Linked DNA regions of Homo sapiens: region 1 is linked to region 2. The links come from fine-mapping of genetic effects on gene expression. A gene starts in region 2. The other region holds a variant in brackets. All regions are shown on one strand. Distances are between the middles of the regions. Region 1 overlaps GAB4 (GRB2 associated binding protein family member 4). Region 2 holds the start of GAB4 (GRB2 associated binding protein family member 4).

What was found.
Region 1: its variant is fine-mapped to the expression of GAB4 in testis (GTEx, PIP 0.99).

What each region holds. Positions count from the first base shown.
Region 1 is chr22:16,955,241-16,963,566 of GRCh38, reverse strand. It overlaps GAB4 (GRB2 associated binding protein family member 4), which reads left to right. Exons shown (of 10, transcript NM_001037814.1): 10 at 691-1,631. The coding sequence ends at 834. Among named protein-coding and RNA genes, the nearest start is that of GAB4, 49 kb to the left of the region's middle. The variant T/C (reference allele first, on the strand shown) is at 4,643.
Region 2 is chr22:17,004,890-17,013,215 of GRCh38, reverse strand. It overlaps GAB4 (GRB2 associated binding protein family member 4), which reads left to right and starts at 4,994. Exons shown (of 10, transcript NM_001037814.1): 1 at 4,994-5,275. The coding sequence starts at 5,102. It also overlaps the pseudogene IL9RP6.

The DNA.
Region 1 (8,326 bases), 50 kb after region 2:
GGGCTCCTGTTCCTTCCCTCTCAGCGTGGTGCCTTCATCAGCCTGCCCCGACTCCCCATTAGAGACAGATGACTGTGTGGAGACCTGATCTGTGGAGGTTGTGGAATAAATCAGGAGAGACCCAGGACCGGCAACCTGGCTCCAGGCCAAACTCTTCTGTGAGGAGAACTCACTGTGTGGGAGGGTTCTAGAGCCCGGCCATTGATGCGGGGGACCTCAGAAGGAACTCCTGGGTCCAGGAAAGCCTCCCGAGAAAGCACATGTAGCCAGCCTGTCTAGACAGCAGGGTGGAGAGCTCCATCTCTGTGCATTGCGCCCCTTGGGGAGATAGGGCTCACCAAGGGCACCCCTGGAAAGGCCTAGGCTGGTGCTTGTTGACACCTGGGAAATTTCCTGCCATGGATGAGTGTTTAGAGGGGAAGGCCTTGGCCAGTCCTTGGGCCAGAGAAGGGCCTGGCTCTTCCTGCGAGGTGGGAGATGAGAAGTGCTGGCCAGGGCTATGGCATCCAGCAGGAGGAGAGGTTAGCCTGGAGTTGAGGCTTTAAAGCCCAGGCCCCCCAGGCTGCTGAGAGCAGGAGGCAGAGGTTCCTTCCCCCTGAGAAAGTTTGAGAGAGCCCACTCCTTGGCCTGCCCTTCCTCACCAGGAACTCACAGACACTGCCACTCCCACTTCCACCCTCTGTCCCTCAGCCATCCATAGGCTCTGTCACGTCCGGCAAGAAGGTGGACTATGTCCAGGTGGATCTGGAGAAGACCCAGGCCCTGCAGAAGACCATGCATGAACAGATGTGCCTGCGGCAGTCCTCAGAGCCTCCCAGGGGCGCCAAGCTGTGACTCGGGCCACCAAAACCAGAGTGGGGCCAGGACAGTGCCTCAGAGCTGCTCCGCCACACTCTAAAGCTCTGTAATATCAGGGACCGCATCCCTTACATAGAGAGCAGAGGCCTGATCAATATACATCCTTTGCCTGCTTGGGGCCCACCTGTGCCTTTGGCTGGCCATGGTCCCCACCTTCACCCCCTTGCTAGGAGCAGTTGCCAGCAAGCATCCTCAGTCTCTTCCTGCCCCTCAGACCCGGGCTCCCAACAGATTTCCACTCTCACACTTACTCATGGTCCTCAGCCTCTTCCTTCTAGCCTCTGGGCTGTTTCCCTCAATCCTGGAACATGAGGAGCTACCTTGCTGACCCGGGGACCCAAGGCCCACAGGCCACAGTGGACATGGACCTTTTCAGCCCTGGCATTTTTTGGTCAGGGGAGAGGCAAGGCCATCAAACGTTGGAATAGTTGAGAAGGAAGGTTAAAGGTGGTCTTGAGAAGCAAAGGAATTAGATCCTTAGACCAGCAGGGCAGCTGATACCTGCAAGGGCTCCCACTTTCAGACTGAGGCCAGAGTATGGCAGCTGCTCCCGGGTGGGAGAGGCAGAGAGGGAAGGGCAAAAGGAAGGGAAAACATGAAGACGAACAGCCGAAAGCCACAAGAAGCAGGGCTGGAGCTCCAGAGACTGGGGTGACAAGGACCAGGGTCAGGGCCCCAGAAATCCGGAGCTGCAGGCTGGCTCTGCTGCTCTTTGCTGATGCCCCTTGGGGGGCCCTTGCCTGCCTAAGAAGGCTTGATCTGAGCTGGGCAAAGCAGCAACTGATGGGGGAAATACCTGCAGGGTGAGGGGTGGGATGGGGCAGGGAGTGAGGGAGGAAGGGAGCATGTGCAGATGGAGATGGCTCAGGGCTGAGGGGCTCCTGGGACAGGCAGGGGCCCGAGGCAGGGCCCGGGACTCCGCAGTGCAGGTGGTGCAGCACGTGACCTTCTGTGAAGGGGCAGAGCAGTGGGGAGGGCACAGAGGGAACCCATGGGAGGCAAGGCCGGGGAGACAGCCAGGGAGAAGTGGGGAAATGTGGCCAGGGGCCCTGGGGGCATGCCATCAGTGGTGAAAGGAATACAGGAGCAGAAGGTGAAGGGGGGTCTGCTATGCATGGGAGCAGTGTGGGAGGCCAGCTGGAGGGGCATCTGGGACGCGGGTAGAGCCTGCAGGGAGGACGGCCTGGGGTGGGGCTGAGGCTGTGCCAGGCCGTGTTTCCCTCTCACTTCGCCCTCTTCCTTGGCGTTCCAGTGCCACATTGGACTCAAACTTGGCTATGGGGACAGGAGAAGCCAGTCTCCTCCTCCTGTGACTTGAGAGATTCTCAAATCGCAGGTTCAGAAGGTAGGCCCTCACCCAGGGCTTCTTGTGCCAAAGTTCAGGTAGGGATCTGAATTTTTTGTTGAAAGTTTTTGACCAAAATTTCGAAGAGTTTCAGAATGAACAGGGCAGAGCGGACACTTCATCCTACCTTGGGGTGAACAGACTTTCCTCCTCCAAAAAATGACTGCCCACAGGGTTTGATGGAGGCGGCCTCCACACCCTGTCAGCACCTGTGAGCACCACACTTCACCAGACCAGGGGCCTGGCTGGCTTCTGGGGATCCATCCCTCAGCAGGAGCCCTCTCCCCTGGCAGCTCAAAGGCTCAGGTGGCAAGGCCCCGGGCTTAGGCACTGAGGACACGGGGAATCTATTAGACCTTTTCCCAAACGTGACAAGGTCACATCAGTGAGGGAAAGGACAAGGACACAGACAGTGGTGATGGCCAAGATAGGCTGAAGATGCTGATGGGGTGCACAGGAAGTGAAAACTCCTCAGGGAGTGGAGGCAGAGAAGGTGGTTTTTAGGACAAGGGGTGCCTGAATTAGTCTTGAGAGGTTAGGTCAGATTTTTGCAGGGAAGGAGGGCAGGGCCAGGCTGCAGTGGAGGAAGGAACGACAGACTGGAAAAGCCTGTGCTGAGGGGCCACAGGAGCTTTGGAGGGCAGGTCCAGCTGCTCAGAACTGCAGGGGCCGGGCCTTTGTGCTCCCACGGGTGGAATGGTGATGGCTGTGTGACCACACTGGGCAGAGTGTGCAGGGTGCTGGCTCACTGGCCCAGCCCTGACTGTGTCCCTGTAAGGTCCTCTACAAGGGGTCCCATACAGCACAGCTCTTAACTGCCATCCCCTGTCCCCAGCTGACTACAGTGGGGCCCAGTATTGATCTCAGCTCCCAGCCCAGCCACCTTCCCTGTTGATCCCAGGCTGCTAAGAAAGTGCTGCATGTTCTGAGTGTGCATGGTGTGCATGAACTTGGTGGAGGCTTCAGAGACTGAGGTGTTCAAGTCCCATCTCCAGAGGGGTTCCTTCCAGCTCTTGGTTCCTGTGACCACCAAACCCTGAGGGTGAAAGTAGGGGTGGAGATGGAAAGAAGGACAAGAGAAGAGGACACTGGCCTATTGGAAGCAGAGCTCTACTCCCAAGCCTGGACTCCAGCCATGTCTAGCATGTATCCCCCCCTCCACCCACCATCCCAGAAGGAAAAGTCAACTCAGCTTAATACAGGGGTCCTTGGACCTATCTTGAGGTTAAAGTCCACCTCCCCTGGTGGCCTGGCCAGGACTGAGACCCCAAAAAGGGACACCTCAGCCAGTGCAGCTCACATGGGGGCTTGTCCTGCTGGGCTCTCCAGGGGAGCCGTCTTCACCCACCCCCACCACCTGCAAAGTTAGAGAGCAGTCAGGTGGGAACAATGAGAAACGGGCAAGGACATCTCCCTAGGACTTTGCTTTCCCATCTGTGGAGTGGGTGGTTGGATTCGATGTTGTCTGGCCCCTTCCTAGGCTGAGGCTCTGCTGGTCTCGGAGCTCCTTGCTCTGTTACTTCTCTCTGGAGGCTCTGCATCGCAAGGGATGAGCAGCACGAGAGCTTTGGCCAATTAGTCCCTTTCTGGCTTGATATGGACAACTTCTTCATTTCAAACTATTAAAATAGACCACATTCCTACGGCAGAAGCACAACCATTCTGGTTATGGGAACATAGGCTCAGCTGTAGTCGGCCTTGTGGTCCTTCAACGTGCTGTGAGGCTGTCATCTTAGTCCCAGGCCCTGGCACAGCATCACCCACATGACTGTGACCCCCAGGGACATGCAGGACAGGGAAGTGAGCACTTCTGTTCTGGGCCTGGGCCTTGATCTGGGAAGTGTGGGGGAGGGGAGGCTGACCTGCAGAGCACTAAGAGCATCATTCTGGGATACACCAGGCCCCTGAGGCCTGGGACGATGGCCGTCTGCCTGCTGAGAGCCCACTGCAGAGTCAGGCTGGTATGTTTGGTCCAGCGGTGTGTGTCCTTGTGTATTTGTTGGCTACTTGTATCTTGCTGTTTAGAATCATTTTGTACAGAATGTTTGGTTTCTCATTAAGAGAAAATGGGCAAGAAGCCCAGTCTTAAGTTCTTGTCTTGGTACCATTTAAAATTGACATTTCATTTTTTTTTTTTTTTTTTTTTTTTTTTTGAGACGGAGTCTCGCTCTGTCGCCCAGGCCGGACTGCGGACTGCGGACTGCAGTGGCGCAATCTCGGCTCACTGCAAGCTCCGCTTCCCGGGTTCACGCCATTCTCCTGCCTCAGCCTCCCGAGTAGCTGGGACTACAGGCGCCCGCCACCGCGCCCGGCTAATTTTTTGTATTTTTAGTAGAGACGGGGTTTCACCTTGTTAGCCAGGATGGTCTCGATCTCCTGACCTCATGATCCACCCGCCTCAGCCTCCCAAAGTGCTGGGATTACAGGCGTGAGCCACCG[T/C]GCCCGGCCGACATTTCATTTTTCAAATCACTGTTGGTGCCTAATCACTGAAGTTATTCCATTTTCTTTTAAAACTTTTGTTATGTGTATTTACCCTGTGAGCACACCTGGGGGTGACAGGAGTGTGCTCAAGAGGCTATCATTTCTGCTGTGGTCACTGGACAGGCCTCGTGCTGGCAGGCTCCTTTGTACTGAAGCACTGGAGCAGGACGGTAGTGAAGTTCATGAGGAATACAGCCCAGGGTGGGCTGCTTGGGTCTTTCTGGGAGTGGAGCCCACACTCACTCAAGTCTCACCTTAGGCTGAGCCTGAGCACCTGGCTGCCCTGGGCAGGCACAGACACACACTGTCAACAAGAAAACCATTTCAGAATCATTTCTCCAATGACCCAGGAAGGCCACTGTGCCAGTCTGTTCACTTCATCTTAAATAGGAAATAGGTACTTTTCCTGGCTCAGAGAGAAAATAAATTCTCTTTATCACAGAATCTACTTTCCTAATCTGTAAACTGGACATTGTGCTAGCACCTGCCAATCCGTCTTTCTTAGAAGGGAGTCTAGAGGTGGTTCTGAGAGGGCTTCATCTGTGTCTGTGTCCACTGGGCCCCTGGCAACAGGTTCCTGAGGTCTGACATCTCACAACTCCCCTCCACTGCTCCACCCACTGCACAAGTGGGGCAGCCCTTGAGGTCCCTGGTGCCTTTTTACCTTCCATGTTCTCCCAAATGGCACTGTAGGAATGGTGCTTGCGGACCCTGTGGTAAGGGCTGCTCCCAAGCCCCGTACATGCCCCACTTCTCTGCTTCAACTCCAGGATGGGGTGGGGCCCAGGAAAGGAGCCGGGTGCGGGCTCTGGAGTGGGAAACCTGTGGTGAGGGCTGATCCTGGGCTCTGCGAGTGTGGCTGCTCCTGCGTTTCTCTAGCTCCAGGCTGGGTTGTTGCCTGTGGTAAGGAGCTAGGTGTAGGCATGGTAGGTGCACCATGGCCCTGTGGTGACAGCTGGTCCTGGGCCCTGCCAGTGTGGCTGCTCATGTGCTCCTCTCCAGCTCCTGGATGGGATGGTGTCCATGGGAAGGAGATGGGTTCGAGTTCTGGAGAAACAGGGGGCTGCCTCCCAGCTAGCCCTGACCCATGCCAAGTCCAGCTCTGGAGATGTGACAACCCCCTCTCAACCTCCCCAGCTTCTCAGATGCAAGGAAAGAGGGATGTGGCATCTGCAACAGGTGTTTGTGGGCAGTCCAGAATTCTTGGGTCTGAAACATTTCCAGTTATTTATTTGGGTTTCAAGTGCACCTGAGAGGTGAGTCCCCTCCACAGTATTCCACTGGGACCCCCCATCCTGTGCACCCTTCCTCTCTCTTCCATTCCATCCTCTAGGTCCTCCCAGCCTCAGAACTAGGCAAGTCCTTCAGCACACAGGGCTGTCACTCCATGCTGTACCTCAAGTGATGGGGACAGGGGTATGTCCTCTCCTTACCAAGGAGCAGCATGGGTCCCTATCATGCTGCCCAGATGCAGTGAGGAAATCGAGGGTACAGCATACAGGAAGAGCAACAGCTTTCAAAGGCTTCAGAGAGGCTGGTTTCATACTGCTTGAGAACAAGGGTCTTTCTCTTCATAGAAAAGAGGCTATAGCATGGTCAAGGCACAAGAAGATCACTGGACTGCCCTCGCTCAGCCCTCAGCTACTGCTCTGGCTGTCCATGGCTGAAACTCATCCTGCTGGCCAAAGCCTTTGCTGTTCCAGTTGTTAAATATTTTGATACCACCCTTAACTCTAAAGGGTGGAGTCACAGGCACAGTTAGGAGGTAGAACTAACCTCCCACTGACACTTGGCCATTCACACTCGTAGAACAGCACACTTACTAAACAACTGCATAATTCATTATTCAAAGTCTGTTCCTCTGAAGTAAGGGGTTAGGTGCCTGGGCCACCGATATATTCCGAGCACTGAGCAATGAATGAATGAATGGATGGATGGATTTTTTTAAAAGGCTCAAAGTGAAGGGAAATATTGTATCGAACCAGTGCTTGGCTGGGACTGGATGCATCTCCACCCAGGAGATCAAATCCAGGATCCTGGTGTGTCTGCTCTTCCACAGGTGAGGATGCTGCTGTCCTTGGAAATGGCTTCCGTTCAGCCCTATGGAGGGTGGACATGGTCCAGACTCTGGGAGAGCCCGGCTCAGCCTTGGGCCCCTCCCTAGGCCACTGCTGGTAAAAGAGCACACAGACCTTCCTTGGGTAAAAGGGAGGGGACATTGCAGATAGACAGCAGGAGAAGGCCACCTGTGTGGGCAGTTCCCATAGGGCCTAGGCGGCAGCACCCTTGCGGGCTTAGCAGTGGTTGGGACGGCTCTCCTGGGACACTCCAGAGAGTGCTGGTTCAGTGCTAGTCCACAGTCCTGGCCTGGCACCAGCAAGTGGGGCAGTGATGTCACCCAGGATCTTGCAGTTCCTGCATTGAAGGGGAAGCACAGCAATCTCTGGATGAGGTAGTGTGGCGCCTGGCTCAGGCCCCTGCCTGTTCAACACCCTTCAGGACAGCACCCACCTCGCTGGAGCAGCGGTTCTCTGCTGTCAGCCTGAGGGAACAGGAAGTAGTTGACCAGGTTCAAGTCAAAGCTGGAGACCACACAGCGCCTTCACAGAGAGGGTAGTGGTGTCCTGTGGGTCCCTGGTCCCAGGCCATTCTCCCCCTTCTTGTTCACCTTCTTCATTCACCTCTGTACCCTCAACAGCCCAGGGATGCCTGGCAATGTGGGTGCTCAGAGGTCACAGTAGATGAATGATACTTACAGCACATGAAGGCCCCAGACTTAATGCAGTAGGTGGAATCACTGGAGAGAGAGATGTGGGCAGCAGTACAGAATGGGGCTCGAGGGGGCCCTGCCATGGCCCCACAGTCTCTGTCATGAACCTGTGCTAGCATGGACAAGGGCTCAATAGCTTCTTCCATGAAGTAGGCTCTTGTAGTCAGATGCAGGTAGGTCCTGGGGCAGGGAGGGTGTCACTGTGGAGGCCTGACCAGAGCTTCCTTTCCACCCACTCCTCCCCCTGCACACACTTGGCTGTGATCCAGGAAGGCAAAGAGCCACTGCAGCCTGGAAATAAAAGGCTGTGAGTTGTTCTCAAATGAAGCCAAGAGTGTTTGAAGCTTCACAAAAAAGCAGGAGTGCCCAGGGTAAGCAAAGGCCCCAAAGGAGCTTCTCCTCACCCATGGCCTCCAGGCCGAAGGCAGAACAGGCATTTCTAGTTCAAGGTGAGGCTGGAGGCATGGGACCTGGAGGAAGAGAAGGTGAACACTTGGCCCAGAGTGTTTGGGATCAGAAACACAGCAATGACCTTGGTTTGGAAAATAAGCGGTATAGCAAGGTAACCCCCGAAGTCCCTTCTAGCTCTGACATCCCATAGCCCCAGGAGCCAAAAATTAGTGTGTCCTAACATCTTGTGATGCCAGGGTTCTAAGGCTGGGGCTCTGGTCTGCCACAGAGTTCATGTCAACATCATCCCACCCACAGCAGCCCCCACACCCCTTTCTCCGTGGTTCCCCAGGAAAGAACATACAGACCCCTGCAAAGCAGCAAGCTCCACCTCTGTCCCAGTCCACTGCTGCAGCCCCTGTTCGGGGTCCTGGCCCTAGAACCACCATGAGTTATTCTACCCACACCGCTTTCTCCCTGCT
Region 2 (8,326 bases):
GTGGCTATAGATAAAGCCAGAAAGGGGACAGGAGAATGTGGTGCTGTGGGCAGGATGCTGAGGGCAGAGGCCCCTCCCCACAGGTGCTGAGCAGGTCGGGCAAGGAGGAGCTTCCAGCCTCCATCCAGGCAGGACTTCTGACCACTGCTAGAGGCCCCTTCTCAGGAGGTCCTGTCCCAGCCAAGGGCCAGCTCCAGAGACTTTTGTCCATCTTCCCTAAGATGGACACGATGCAGGTGGCTGTGTCTGGGCCCTAGAAATTTCAGGACTGAGCCATGGTGAAGACAGGAGGGGATTGTGGGCCCTGGATGTCCCTGTGCAGCCCATGCCTCTAGCTTGGACCATTCACCGCCCAGGTACCTCCTCGCTAGGTCTCCAAGCCCCAGTGGTCATGTGACAGGCCATGGGGCAGGGCTGGGATGGGTTCAGGGCTCCATGTGCTTCCTGAGAGGGCTGAAGGGTTGCATCCCTCCAGAGCAGCCCAAGGCATAGTAGCCACTGCTACCCCACTCAGTCTCGGTGAGCAGGCTTGTCGGGGATGTAGGGGCCTGGTCCTCCAGTGGCAGGTAGGCAGGCAGCGGTGCCTCTCACTCCTCACACTCTGCTGGCAGCATATCCTCCAAACTTGGGGCCCCTAGGAGGTGTCCCCATGCCCTCCTGCTCTCCTCCAGGCTGACAGATTTCCAGGGACATGCTGAGTCACAGGTGAGTACTGCAGTGGCCTCTCGCACACTGAATTCCAAGGCTCCTTGCGAGGTGCTGGCACAGTCCTGGCTCAGCTGCACGCTGGCCCTGTGGGCCCCCATCCAGGTTAGAAGCAGAGTATGGGATGAGGAAAGGGATCAGGCAGCATGATCAGAACTCACCCTGGGAGTGGCAGCCTCCTCCTCAGCAAGCCCTCCCTCCTCCTCCAAGAAGCCCTCCTGATGTCCACACCCAGAGGCCAAGCAGCACCTGTGCCAGGAGCATTCTGTCTTCCTTACTATGTGCCAGCTCAGCCTCAACATGGGACCCTGAGTCTCTTCAAGTCCCCTCACTGCTCCCCTAGCACAGAGCCTGGTGCTCACAGCAGCCTGCACCAGGGTACAGATGGTGACATGTGCTGAGGAAAAAACAAACACTTGGCAGCATGCAGCATGTGTCCCAGGGCCTTTCAGCAGCTACAGAGACTGGGTACCCCCACCTGAACAATTTTCTCTGTCTCTCTCTCTCACACACACATAGCATGACGGACAGGTGACACGAAGACTGGTGACTTTCAAGGTGCTTGGGAAAGGCCAGCAGACCTGAATCCTTCTGTGGGGACACAGGAGACCTCTGCTTCCAAAAGGAAGCTCTTCCCTAGGTGGGACCAGAAGTATCCATCCAACACGCCACACACACACCACACCCTCCATCACTGCACTGCTCCCTGCCAGACCCTCACCCAAGGCCTAAATAATCCCTGGCAGATGCCCTGGTTCTATAGAGAAGGGCTGGTGTCTGCAAGGGGATGACACAGGCCAGGGTACGATCACAACCTCTGCCCCGCTCAGACTTGTCCTCAGCTGCCCAGGCTCTTGACAGTCACATTTGCCACTGTGAGGAAAGATGGGAAATCTGCCAAGACCCAAGTGCTCAGTTTTAAGCTTTAAATTATATTTTTGAACAACAATCCTAAGAACTGGGCTTCCTGTTGAAAGGGAAAATGATTTTTCTACATAATATGCTGGCAATACTGTGTGGAGGGGATATCTCTGCTGCACAGGGTCCAGGGAAGCCCTGCAGCACCAGGAAAGGAGATCCTGGTGTCACCCTACAAGGAAGAAGCTGAGACAAAGTTAATCTTAGTAGAGAGTTTATTTGAGACAAACTTCAGGATTGCAACTCTGGAGCATAGATTCAAGTTATCCTGAATATACACTGCAATTAGCAGCAGTTATGAGCTGATTTTTAAAGGCAAAACAAGGTGGGCAGGGAAGGGGCAGATACAATTCCTCAGGAATTTTAGTTGGTTCATAGCAATAACACTGCTTAGTGATGGGCCGTACACTGTTAAGCTATAGGGTGTGGGGTATGGCGTCTGGTGTGGCATTATGAGGTAAATTCATAGCTACTTCTGGCAACAGCAGTATCAAGAAATGAATACACAGCTCAATGTGAGGGAGTAGGACATGACTGTGGTCTCATTTTAATGCCTCTTTCTGGGCCTGATAATTAAAGCACTTGCATTTCTCAGATAAAAGTTATTTTATTTTCCTGACTGGTAAAGACCCAGGTCAGCTTGGTCCAGACCGCAGGGAGAGGCCCTCATGCCCTGTGTCCTTTGCCCAAAGTGAGAAGCCTGAGGGAGCACACTGGAGCCCACCCCTGGAGCTCTCCCTCTGCCCTTCCTCCTACCCACGGGGCATGAACTGCCAGCTCAGCAGGGAGGGGAGGGTCCTATGTGACCCCCAAGTAGTTCGCTGATACATGGGCTGTGGGAGCCAGACGAGGCCCACAGAGGGGGAAATGCAGAGCCCATTCCTGACTCTGGTGCCAATGTGTGACTCCAGGGGAATCGAAGGGGTGGGCAGACCAGGAGCCCAGGGTCAGTGAGGGTCCCAGGGGCAGCACAAGTGCTGGAGACCCTCCCCGACAGCCACCGGACAGACACTCACAGAAGGAGGAGGTGAGACCCATGGTGGGCACGGATAGCTGCAAAGCAGAGGAAACAGAGATAAGTTATGAGAAACTTATATATATTTTCCATCAACCATGGAATGGAAGACACAAGAAAAATAAATCATCAATGGAAAATAAAGTGGTTTTTTTTTGTCCACTTGAGACACAGAGGATAAATTTAAATTCACTGTATACACACACAAAAAGGCTCAGAACACTCATAAGTCGCCCACAGTGGCCCCCAACCGTCATCAAAGCCAACATCCTGGGCAGGCTAGACCTTGGGGCAACACCTGCCTTCCATGCCCTGTGGCAGTCTCTGCACTCTCCTGAAGTTCCCATTGTGCGCACTGTAGGGGGCTGGAAGAATGTTGCTGGAGAGGACATATTCTGGAAGAGGGTTCTTTCCACCCTGAGGCCAGGAGAAGACAGTCAGAGGCCCACGGGGACCCAGGTCGGGGCTCCTGCTGAGGCCCCAGTCGGTACGAGGTCACTGCAGGGGCTGAGCTCCCTTCCATCCAGGAAGACCTTATCTGCCTCATTCCTGCCACTGCCTCTCTCCCGTCTCACCCCATCCAAACCTACTCTCATCTCAGGGCAGGATCCAACTGGGTACCCTGTGGCCTCGTTGGCTAACTGATTTATACTAAGGTATGTGTCCTTTACAGTGTGAGCTGTGATGGTGAGTTTAGAATTGACTCGCCATGACTGCAGCCTGCAGAGGGAGCCAGCACCTCCAGGAACCCCATTCTTGCCATCAGCAGAGGGTCTATGGCTCCCACCTCATCCAGTGTCTCCCTGAGCACCATGTCTGCCTGACCAGGACCCAGTGGTCCTCCCATGAGGATGCTGCCTAGGGCTCCAACCCAATAGGTCCAAATACACCTCACCAACCTCCCCTCGGGGCTGTCCCCCCATTCCCCACCTCAGGGTCGGGTCACTACTCATATCTCATCCACCCACATGTCTCCTCAGTCTCAAGACTCTGCAATTTCCTCCATGTGGCTCCATCTCCACTTTTCCCACCAGCTCAAGCCAAATCTTATCTCTATGGACATCCCATTGGCCCTCATCAGGTCCCCCATGTCTGCTTGTTCCTGCAATCCATTCTCAAAACATAAAGCATAACATGTCACACAGTTTCACACTCTTCAGCACTTTCCTTTGCTCTGAGGAGAAGCCAGGCACCCACTCACCTGGCCCCACCCAGCACCCCCATCCCCACACACTCTTCCTTGCATCCTCCCTGCTACCTGATGGGGCCCCTGTGCCCCTCTTGTAAGCTGACATGCAGTGCACATTGGGGATGGCTTACTGAAGAGGCCCCTTGTCTGTCCTGTTCTCTAAGACATCTGCAGAGGCAAGAACAGATCCTGTGCATATCAGATGCCCCCAACTGTGCTTTCACACAATGTGTGAACAAAGAAGCAAACCAAGCTCCTCCAGAGGCAGGAGACAAGGACCTCCGGCTTCTTGGTCCCCGTGACACCGGGTCTGGTTGAGGCCAAGCTGCCCTCATCTTTGACCTGTTCTCTCCTTCCCTTCTCTCCCCAGGCAACATGAGAACCTCCAACTGGCCCAGGGAAGGAACTTGTAAAGCCCACCCCAACCAGGATAAGACAGTGGGGCATAAATGGGAGGAGAGGGGTTGGCTGTCAGTGCCACACTCAATGAACACTCACACATGCACACACTGATGCGTGCACACACGTGACATAAGTACACACGGTGACATCCCAATACATTCACAAACATACACAACACAAACAGGCCCAAACCCTCACTCTGAAACCTAACCCCACCCCCAAACTGCAACCCGGAACTCAAGTCCTAGCCTGAACCTTGACCCCAAACCCCAACTCAAGTCAGAAGGTAAACCATGGGCCGAATCCCGAACTGGAACTCAAACCCCAGCAGGAACCTGAACTCTTCCATTGTCTTTCCTCATCTGGCGCATGGGACTCAGCACCTGAGACTCTGTTGTGGCCCTCTGAATGAGCTGCGCCCCTCGTTCTTGTCCTCTCCACCAGCTGCGCTCCCTGTCCCTCTTCTCCCAAGGAGCCACCCGGCCCATGTCCCCCGCCCCGGTGGTCCCGATGAGATGCACCCAGGCTGACCCAGGGTGCAAATCCCCACCCCAATCCCCAACGCAAACCCTGAACGAGAGGCCTCGTCTAAACTTTAATCCCAAACTCCACCTCAAATTGGAACCGGAACCACAGATGGAAGCCTGAACCGGAACTCAAAGCCCAGCTGGAACCTGAACCCCGCCCTCGCCTGTGAGCACCTGCGCCCGGGTCTCGCCCTCCCCACGAGCTTCACCTCTGACCCCGACCTCCCCTAGAACTGCGCTTTCTACCCCGCAGTCCCAGGGTATCGCAAGCCGTCCCTCACACCCCACCTCCAGCAACGCCCTCTCGCCCTGTCTCCCCCACCTTCACTGTGAGCTGCAGCCCCCATGTCCCTGCCGTCCCCCTCACCCTCCCGGGAGCTGTGCCCACCTGACCCGGCATTTGCGCCTTTGTCTTCGTGGCCCGGAAGTGGCCCCGCCGGCGGAAGCACGAGAAGTGGCCACGTGCTGTACAGCGGCTGGCTGAGGAAGTCGCCCCCCGAGAAGAAGCTGAGGCTCTTTGTGAGTGGGGCAGTGGGGGCGGTACCAGGAGCGCCACGGAGGGTCTGGGGACTCCGGGAGGGGCGTGGGGGAGGCGGCCTGGGTCCACGGGAGGAGCTGCGGGTGGAGGCGACTTCTCCACGTCTGCATGCGAAGGCGACTCCCCGCCAGTGAGAGACAGGGTCCAGGTTTGTGTGGGTTGCGTTCCGAGACCCAGGGAGTTGATTCCAGGGCTGGGGACCCTATTACCTTGAGCGCCGTGGGCCTGCAGGTCGGAGAGTGGGCGGGAAAGGGGACACAGCAGGCTCCGCAGCCTCGCAAAACGGCAGGAACCTCGCACCCGCTCCCCTTCCCTCCCAGGCCCTGAGAATGGCGGGCACCTCGCACCCTCTCTCCTTCCCTCCCAGGCCCCAAGGAAGGCAGGCGCCTTAAACCTGCTCACCTTCCCTCCCAAGCCCCGAGAAGGCAGGCACCTCACACCCTCTCCCTTTCCCTCCCGGGCCCCAGGAAAACGCGGGCACCTCGCACCCGCTCGCTCCCCTTCCCTCCTCACCCGCCACTCCCGGGGTCGTTCGCGTCCTTCCATGCCACCACGCCTGCTGAGGGACAGTGTGCACTGCAGTGTAGTTTTCTATATATTAATTCATGTGGTTAAACGATTTAGAAAAAAAGAAGATTGGTTGCCCTTTCCCCTAGTGGCTAATTTGAAGAGTGTTGTTCTAAATTTCAACAATTTTACTGAGGAAGCGGTAATTGTTAGGAGTCACTATGATTATACCAAGGTACATAGAAGAGGCTTTTCTCTCCTGTTCCTTAGCCCCAGGTCCAGCCCTTCAAGAATCTATTCCAGAATAAGCTGATCCTATAGTCATCTTCCCTTTCCTCTGCTTCCCTGAGGTATGGGGTATGATCAATTCTGCGTTCTTGTCTTTCTCCATTTCTTTTTTCAATTTTTTATTATACTTTAAGTTCTGGGATACATGTGCAGAACGTGGAGGTTTGTTACATACATATACACGTGTCATGGTGGTTTGCTGCACCCATCAACCCATCATCTACATTAGGTATTTCTCGTAATGCTATCCCTTCCCTTGCCCCCCAACCCCAATAGGCCACATTGTGTAATGCTCCCGTCCCTGTGCCCATATGTTCTCATTGTTCAGCTGCCACTTATGAGTGAGAACATGGCGGTGTTTGGTTTTCTGTTCCAGTGTAAGTTTGCTGAGAATGATGATTTCCAGCTTCATCCATGTCCCTGTAAAGAACATGAACTCATTCTTTTTTATGGCTGCATAATATTCCATAGTGTATATGTGCCATATTTTCTTTATCCAGTCTATTATTGATGGGCATTTGGGTTGGTTCCAAGTCTTTGCTGTCGTGAATAGTGCTGCAATAAACATACGGGTGCACTTGTCTTTATAGTAGAATGATTTGTAATCCTTTGGGTATATACCCAGTAATGGGATGGCTGGGTCAAATGGTATTTCTAGTTCTTGATCCTTGAGGAGTCGCCACACTGTCTTTGACAATAGTTGAACTAATTTACACTCCAACCAACAGTGTAAAAACATTCCTATTTCTCCACATCTTCTCCAGCATCTGTTGTTTCCTGACTTTTTAATGATGGCCATTCTAACTGGCGTGAGATGGTATCTCGTTGCATTTCTCTAATGACCAGTGATGATGAGCATTTTTTCATGTTTGTTGGCCACATAAATATCTTCTTCTGTTAAGTGTCTGTTCATATCCTTTGCCCACTTCTTGATAGTGTTGTTGTTTTTTTCTTGTAAATTTGTTTAAATTCCTTATACATTCTGGATATTAGCCCTTTGTCAGATGGATAGATTGGAAAAAATTTCTGCCATTCGGTAGGTTGCCTGTTCACGCTGATGATAGTTTCTTTTGCTATGCAGAAGCTCTTTAGTTTAAATAGATCCCATTTGTCAATTTTGGCTTTTGTTACCATTGCTTTTCATGTTTTAGTTATGAAGTCTTTGCCCATGCCTATGTCCTGGATGATATTGCCTAGGTTTTCTTCTAAGGTTTCTATGGTTTTAGGTCTTACGTTTAAGTCTTTAATCCATCTTGACCCCGACCTCCTTCAGAACTGAGTTAATTTTTGTATAAGATATAAGGAAGGGGTCCACTTTCAGTTTTCTGCCCATGGCTAGCCAGTTTTCCCAACACCATTTATTAAATAGGGAATCCTTTCCCCATTGCTAGTTTTTGTCAGGTTTGTCAAAGATCAGATGGTTGTAGATGTGTGGTGTTATTTCTGAGGCCTCTGTTCTGCTCCATTGGTCTATATATCTGTCTTGGTACCAGTAACATGTTTTGGTTACTGTAACCTTGTAGTACAGTTTGAAGTCAGGTAGTGTGATGCTTCCAGCTTTGTTATTTTTGCTTAGGATTGTCTTGGCTATACGGGCTCTTTTTTGGTTACATGTGAAATTTAAAGTGGATTTTTCTAATTCTGTGAAGAAAGTCAATGGTAGCTTGATTGGAATAGCAATGAATCTGTAAATTACTTTGGGCAGTATGGCCGTTTTCACAATATTGATTCTTCCTATCCATGAGCATGGAATGTTCTTCCATTTGTTTGTGTCCTCTCTTATTTCCTTGAGCAGTGGTTTGTAGTTCTTCTTGAAGAAGTCCTTCACATCTCTTGTAGGTTGTATTCCTAGGTATTTTATTCTTTTGGTAGCAATTGTGAATGGGAGTTCACTCATGATTTGGCTCTCTATTTGTCTATTATTGGTGTATAGGAATGCTTGTGATTTTTGCACATGGATTTTGTATCCTGAGACTTTACTGAAGTTGCTTACCAGCTTCAGGAGTTTTTGGGCTGAGATGATGGGGTTTTCTAAATATACAATCATGTCATCTGCAAACAGAGACAATTTAACTTCCTCTCTTCCTGTTTGAATACCGTTTATTTCTTTCTCTTGCCTGATTGTCCTGGCCAGAACTTCCAATACTATGTTGAATAGGAGTGGTGAGAGAGGGCATCCTTGTCTTGTGCCGGTTTTCAAAGGGAATCCTTCTAGCTTTTGCCCATTCAGTATGATA